Linked DNA regions of Homo sapiens. The protein of the gene in region 2 interacts with the protein of the main gene of each other region in a biochemical or structural test. Each region holds a gene or a part of one and is shown on either strand. Other genes may lie near its edges.

Region 1 (3,816 bases), on a different chromosome or scaffold from region 2:
TACGCTAAGTAATTAAACTTAGACTTCTAAGTCTCATCCCTAAATTGGGCCTGAGTACCCTCATCCATTAAGAGATGGGTAAGACAATATATATTGTCCCATCCAGCTCTGAATTTCTATTACTCTAGAAATGGCAAGCCCCAACTCATAGATGGGAACTTAAATGCATTCTACACCAAATCCATTTCCATATTAACTTCAACAGGTACCATGAGAACATTACTTGTGCCTCATGGTCCATTCATTTACCTAAATCGGTTCATTTAAAATTTTATTCTACTACTACTCTTCCTTCCACTCTATCACTTTTCCAGAGATGTACAACACAAACATACATATAAAACACCCACAAGCCCACTTAAAATATAACACCAGAAGATCAAAGTCATAAAAGACTCAGAAATTATGTTTACAAGTAAATAACTTCAATGGAGACTGAAACAGAAAAATTCTGATAGCTGTCCTCACTCTGAAACAAGATTCATGTACCTCTAAATGTCCCCTGTAAGTCCACTGAACCTCAAAACGTCTTCCATTTATCTTGTCTCCAAATGAGCCAATTCAAAATATCAATATGATTTTAGTGTTTAATAATACCTTCAAATTCTCCCCCCTTCAAAAAAAAAACTTTCCTTATTTTTGAGACAGGGTCTCACTACCTTTCACAAATGAGTGTTACTCTAACTCTTGTCTCTCTCTCACTTCAATATTTTTGTTATTCCCATCTTCCTTCTACCATTCCAAAGAGTTGATTTAAAAAACAGTTATGGGGCCAGGCATGGTGGCTCACGCCTGTAATCCCAGCACTTTGGGAGGCTGAGGCAGGTGGATCATTTGAGGTCAGGAGTTCAAGACCAGCCTGGCCAACATGGTAAAACCCCGTTTCTACTAAAAATACAAAAATTAGAAAGGCGTGGTGGCGGGCGCCTGTAATCCCAGCTACTCAGGAGGCTGAGGCAGGAGAACTGCTTGAACCCGGGAGGCGGAGGGTGCAGCAAGCCGAGATCGCGCTACTGCACTCCAGATAGAATGGACGATAGAGACTCCATCTCAAAAAAAAAAAAAAAAAGAAAAAAAGAAAAGAACAGTTGTGGGAGTGACCCCCAAAGGACTCTGTTGGTGTTCTCGAAACATAACAGGTCTTCTCTTCTCTGCCCCTAAGAACCAGTTTGGAGCTCCATTACTGCTAAGCGAACAGCTCCACAAGAAAAGTGGAGACACATACTACTTTCTCTCAAGTTACAGGACCTCAAATGGTATCCCAGGAGACCTCCAAGTACTGATCAATAATTGGCCAAAATATCAAAAAAAAAAAAAAAAAAGTCACCTCATTCCAAGATGTAGGGCATACTTCACCAAATTGAGACCACCACTCGTTAGAATCTTGTCTACTGGAGTTTTGCCTCCCAGCACTTCTTGCAAACCCTGTGTCACCCCTTCTGACTTTCCACTGATTTTTCAGCTGTTTAAAGTGTATATAATTTACCCATGAGAAGTCAAGATCTTTAAAAACAGGAAACAAAGGCAGACAACAGAAAAAAATTCAGTACACATAGAGAAAGCGTTTTCAAAAGGATATCAAATTTTACAACATTTTACTAACAGAAGGAAGCCTTTATACTTACAGTCGGTACATATTCCGATGGAAATTTGTTTGTTGTGTAGGATATCAGGAGACATGTTTTACCAACAGCACCATCGCCCACAACAACACACTTAATTGTCTGCATTGCTGAAATAGTTTTGTATCCACTTTAAATATTTCAAATCTGATGATGACCTGCAAAAAGATTAAAGACATTTGTTTATTTATACTTACATATGGATTTTTCTTCCTCACTTAGCAACAGGTTCAGGCACTCAGAGCAAGAAAAGAACTAGCACAATTATTATGGCTAAAAGAACCCAATAAGAGACACAATGACTTGCTATAAGTTACAATAACAAATAAGGTCCATTTCTAAGTTTCTGATCCCTGGCTATTCCAACTTCTTAAGTGTTATTTTTAAAAGGTCCAAAGTGGTGTGATAATCAGCGAATTTATTTTTATCATGAAAGAGAAGAGGCTGTATCAGAGAAAATTCCACAGTGTGCTAAATATTATTTTGTGAAAGCTGTTCTTCAGTTACACGTGCACACACACCTGTATGTATGCATGTATGTCAACTAGACTGCAATACAAAGGCCACTGCTTTAAAGAATGGTTCATGATCCAGCCTTATTCAGCCTTACTCAGGCTCTGACCAACAAGCAGCAGAGCACCACACGATCACACGGTAATTATATGAGTAACGTGAGGAACTGAACAAAGAACAGGGTGATCGCTGGCCTCAGCAGCTGTTTTAGCACCAGAATGCCTAGTCCAAAACCTACATTTTTATAATGAAAAAGTCAGATTGCTCTAAAGCATACTGACTTATAAACAGATACTATAGCTTCTCTTACTAGAGTCCTCCTCCATTTTAAGAAGCTATCAATTACAAGTACCAAAGAGTCATTAATTTGAGATGCTTTTTTTCATGTTAACATCTCTAAAGTCAGAATGTATCTTTGAGTCTCTTAGAATCATTATCAGCCATTTTTCCCCCACATTTTGACTTCTATGAAATTGGAATCTTAGATTCAATGAAATACTTTAACAGTTTTCTGAAAGAATAAAAAGAAACACCACCCAATATGTACCTAAATTTTAAGATTTATATTTAAATTAATTTAAATTATAATCCTAAAGGGGTTATAATTAAACATAAAAATACAGAACCACCTAACTCTTGGTCAGATGCCACCATGCTCCTATAGCACCATTCACAACAATTAATCATAACAATTTATAAATGCCTATTAACATCCCTGTAAATGAACCTATACTACCTCATGCACCACTATACTTCTAGCACTGAGCACTTCTAGACTGACACACTGTGAGTTGTTGATTGGATGCAAAAATCACGAAACAAAAGAACATGAAACTACATTAGTGTGAGTAACTCACATGAAATATACACTCTCCCGCTCCTCATCAAAATTATCTGCAGTATATTTTTCTTTTTTTTAGACAGGGTTTTACTCCCGTCACCCAGGCTGGAGTGCAGTGGCACAACCTCAGCTCACTGCAACCTCCACCTCCCAGACTCAAGCAATCCTCCCACCTTGGCCTCCCAAGTAGCTGGAACCACAGACGCATGCCACCATGCCCGGCTGGGTTTTTGTTTGGTTTTTGTTTTTTTAAGAGACGGGTCTCACTGTTACCCAGGCTGGTCTTGAATTCCTGGACTCAAGCAATCCACTCACCTCGGCCTCCCAAAGTCCCAGAGTGCTGGGATTACATGCATGAGCCACCGCAGCCAGCCATATTTATCCTTCTTTATTCAACTTCCTTTTATATCTCCTTTTTCCTTCTCCTTTCCCTTTTATGCACTAAGAAGCACCCATACTAACTAATACAGCATTAAAGATTAACAACCCTGATCCCTAAGATCAATCAATTACTGGTTAAATCTAAAAGCACTCAAATAATAATAGTAAGCAGCAAACACTCATACAGCATTTACTAAGTGCTATGTACTGTTCAAAACATATTACACATATTCACACATTTCATCCTCCCAAAAAGCCTATGAAGTATGTGCTGTATTATCCCTATTTTACAGATAAGAAGAGTGAGGCTCAGCAAGTAACTAAGCCAAGGCTATTCAGCCAGTAACTGGGAGAACTGTAATTTAAACCCAAGCAGTCTGACTCTCAAGTCCCTGCTTGTTGTGTGTGTGTGTGTGTGTATGTGTCAGTGCAGTGGCGTGATCTCTGCTCACTGCAACC
Region 2 (4,243 bases):
CACTTGGGACATATTGCATTTGAGGTCCTTCAGGGACATTCAGGTGGATATATCTAATCGTTAATTAAAACGGATCTGAATCAAATTTATGCTGAAGTTCATGTAGAAAAACAAACATACAAGAATGTGTTGGAAAAAAGAGAATCTACTGAGGGGACCTAGCTCTACCAGATATATGAAATTATATATCCTCTATAATTCAACTGGTATATGGATAGCAAACAGACCAATGAAATAGAATAAAAAGCCCAGAAGGTTTTCCAAGTACATATGGATATTTGATATGTAATAAAGGTGGTATCTCAAATCCCTAAAGCAAAGATGGACTTTCTGATGCCAGAACAACTGAGAAACCGATTGGAAAAAGAAAACAAAAGATCCATCAATACTTTATGCCATACACAAATATAAACTCTAAATGTAAAGAAAACCATATGAATACTAGAAGAAAACATGGGTGAATGCTTCTTGGACCTTATGTAGGAAAAGATTTCTTAACTATGAATCGAAATCTAGAGGCAATAAAAGTTAAATAAATTTGACTACTTTTTTTAATGCATGGCAGAAAAACACCATAAACAAAGCCAAAAAGCAACTGACAAACTGGAGAGAAAATTGCAACATATATAACAGTTAATGTATTAAGAAAACTTGAAAATTGAGGTGAGAAGGACCAACAACCCACTAGAAAAATGTGGAAAAGACATGAACCGACAATTCACAAAGAAAGATATTTAAATTGTCCTTAAACACAGATAAGGCAAAATAAAATGCCATTGAGATATTACTTCTCAACTATCATATCAGTGAACATTTAAAAGTATGTCATAGGTTATGTTGGGAAGGGCATTGGGAAACAAAACACTCCCCTATATTTCTGATGGGAATGCAAAAATAGGTCTGAGATTCTGGGGAGGGAATAGCCTGGAGATGTAAATCTGGAAGTCATTGGTCTTTACTGGAAATGAATGAGATCAAACAGGGAGACAGAACTTGAGGACTGAGGAGAGAGGAGGCCCAGGACAGAACCCTAGGAACACTGCCACTCAAGGTGGCAGCTCAGCTTCCTGGCAGGCAGCACCACCCTGGGCTCTGGAGTCAGGCAGAGACAGTCTTGAAAGCGGGCTCTGGAGTTCTGGGGCTGAGCGCTCTTGGCAAAGTCGGGTACCCTCTTTGATCAGCTGTCACACCTGGCGATAATGGCATCAGAGAGAGATACCCTGCGAGGATGCCGTGAGATGCGCCAGGTAAAGCACCTGGGGTCAGAAAGCCACCCCCTCCTCCTCTTCTCCGTGACCCCCCTTTGCTACACAAACACACCCCGACCCCGACCGTCCCCAGCCTCCCGGTCCTTCGGGGTTGGATGGTGAGGTGGGTCAGGCAAGGGGGGCCGAGCTCGGGTGACGCGGCGCTCACGTGACCCGCCGGGCGCCTACGTGGGCACCAGCCCCCGCGCCCGCCCGCCCGCCCTGCGGTCCGGTCCTGGCGCCCGCGCAGAACCAGCTGTCTGAGCTGCCCGGGCAGCGGGGGAGCAGCGAGCGGGCTTCCGCGAGCCGGAGAAGGCACAGGCCTGTCCCGGGTCCCGGCAGGTCAGTGTGAAGGTGGGCGCTGCCGGCGGAACCACGGAAGGGGTGGAGGTGGCTGGCAGTAGGAGTAGGGAGGGGCGGAGAAAGGATCCGGGAGACTGGTGAGGAGGGGGAAGCGGAGCGGTCGGAGGCAAGGGCGGGGGAGCCTGGCCCGCCTTCTCGACGACCCCCTGCACTGAGCCGTCCATCCATTTTAGTACTGGAAATGGAGTACGGGGGGGCAACCCCGCAGTGCAACAGTGAAACGTAGACATATTCTGGAAATAACCGCCTCTCACAATCTGCTCCCATGGAAACATCTGACCTCCGCAAAAACGGGGTGGCGCTGGGACAGGTTGCCTCCAGGGGAAGGGGACACAGAGACAAACGCAGTTTGGAAAGCATCCTGGTTTGGTGCCCGAGGCCTGGAAAGAAATGGCGGCTGGGGTGCGGGGGATGTAGGGGAGGAAAACGTTGGGTAAGCAGGGCCTGGACTCAGGAAAGGGAACCGAGTCCCTGTGAGACCGCTGACTGCGCAGCCCCTACCCCTGTCTCCTGTCTGTCCGCAGGTCTGCGCGTCTGTTCCCAGCGCTCTGCGAGGCCTAAAAAGGAGGAGCAACCTGTCCAGAATCCCTGCAGGTCTGTGAAGGTGGTTGTGGGGGAGCTCAATGGACAGGGCCCTATAAGGGTTGAGAGTGTGGAGGGCCCGGCCAGGGCCGAACTGGGGCCCCTGCCCATCCCCCACTCACATGAACACACACCTTACCAGGCTGAACCAGTGCAGAGAAGGTGGCAGGGACTGCCAGGGAATGGCTGGCTCACGTGTGTGGGAGGAGTGGCAGGCTACGTGGTGGGCAGAAGGCCCTCTTGGGGGCCCTGCCAGCTTAGGGGAACCCTCACCAGGGGTGAGATGCAAGTACTATCCAGACCTGCATTCCACCCCATGCCCTCAGTCTCCCATGTCTCTTATTTGTCTCCTCTTCCCTCCATTCCCATCCCCCAGGACAGGAAAAGGAGGGGAAATCTCGACATGGAAAAACCCTACAATAAAAATGAAGGAAACCTGGAAAACGAGGGAAAGCCAGAAGATGAAGTAGAGCCTGATGATGAAGGAAAGTCAGACGAGGAAGAAAAGCCAGACGTGGAGGGGAAGACAGAATGCGAGGGAAAGAGAGAGGATGAGGGAGAGCCAGGTGATGAGGGACAACTGGAAGATGAGGGAAGCCAGGAAAAGCAGGGCAGGTCCGAAGGTGAGGGCAAGCCACAAGGCGAGGGCAAGCCAGCCTCCCAGGCAAAGCCAGAGAGCCAGCCGCGGGCCGCCGAAAAGCGCCCGGCTGAAGATTATGTGCCCCGGAAAGCAAAAAGAAAAACGGACAGGGGGACGGACGATTCCCCCAAGGACTCTCAGGAGGACTTACAGGAAAGGCATCTGAGCAGTGAGGAGATGATGAGAGAATGTGGAGATGTGTCAAGGGCTCAAGAGGAGCTAAGGAAAAAACAGAAAATGGGTGGTTTTCATTGGATGCAAAGAGATGTACAGGATCCATTCGCCCCAAGGGGACAACGGGGTGTCAGGGGAGTGAGGGGTGGAGGTAGGGGCCAGAGGGGCTTACACGATATCCCATACCTTTAATGCCTTTGGCCTTCCATTCTGATTTCTCTGATGAGAATATTGCTGGCCCTGCTTTCCCTGGTAGGTATTTGCCAGGCCCAATGCTTTAACCTTAAGCTGATACTTTGCTTTAGATGTCAGTCTCGTTACCAGCAGCCTTTTGACCCAACTACGGCGCTCTATATTTTAGTAGAGGATTTTCACCCATGTGCATGGAAAAGATGTTCATGGTACATTGTAAAAAAATAAAATTAAAATTAAAAAAAGTTTGCAGAACCGCATATACAGTATCAGCCCGTTTTTATAAAAATGTAAATGTTTGCATAATGCATTTGTGCACAAAGAAAACTCTGAAAGCATGTACACTAAAAAGCAGCCAATGGTTATTCCTGAATGGTATCCAAAAATGAGTTCAATCACTTGCTGGGTAGGTACCTCCATGCCATTCTGCTGTTGTTGTGCCCATCCTCATGTCTTCCCTAGGTGTAACTACGTGAGTGGGCACTGCTACCCCTTCTCCTGGGTCCTTTACCATCCTATGGCTCCCCCATAGGATGCGATTCTTTTTCTTTTCTTTGCTCTCACTCATCTCTACCTTTTCTTAAAGGATATGTCCTTTTGTCATAACAATAATTTTAAAAACTAAACGAGAAAACAATACATAAACAATTGAACTGTTCAATGAGCTTATGAGGGTAATAAAGACACTTAAAATTTCTGTTGCCAGAACATAAAATGATAAGTAAAATTCATATTACCTCTGAGACTAACAGCTAGAGGTATCAACCTGGCAGTTATAACAAATCCATTGCTGTAAGGGTCAGTCTTGCCATCTGTGAAATGGGGATAATACTTATCTCACAGGACTGCCCAGTGGATCAGATGAGGTATTGAACATGTGAGCTGTCCTTACAGGAGCAGGACCCAGCACCCTGTCAGACACTTAAAAGAAGAGCTGAAGGTAGGTTTCACCTGTCCCCAGGAACAACTCCAAGCAGCTGAGTAGAGGGTGCCATCCTTCTCTGGATACTATCATATCTGCTGGGCACTTCTGTTCTGCTATGCC

Evidence for each region.
Region 1: the proteins of TCEAL3 (region 2) and CDC42 form a complex in vitro, tested with the Homo sapiens proteins (one large-scale study listed by BioGRID).

Annotation. Positions count from the first base shown.
Region 1 is NC_000001.11:22,076,393-22,080,208, reverse strand, and holds part of CDC42 (cell division control protein 42 homolog isoform 1 precursor), read right to left. Parts: intron 1,781-3,816; 5' UTR 1,731-1,780; coding exon 1,626-1,730; intron 1-1,625. UniProt on the Homo sapiens protein: Plasma membrane-associated small GTPase which cycles between an active GTP-bound and an inactive GDP-bound state. In active state binds to a variety of effector proteins to regulate cellular responses. Involved in epithelial cell polarization processes.
Region 2 is NC_000023.11:103,606,470-103,610,712, forward strand, and holds TCEAL3 (transcription elongation factor A protein-like 3), read left to right. Parts: upstream 1-1,493; 5' UTR 1,494-1,589; exon of another isoform or gene 1,590-1,601; intron 1,602-2,134; 5' UTR 2,135-2,204; intron 2,205-2,568; 5' UTR 2,569-2,595; coding exon 2,596-3,198; 3' UTR 3,199-3,458; downstream 3,459-4,243. UniProt on the Homo sapiens protein: May be involved in transcriptional regulation.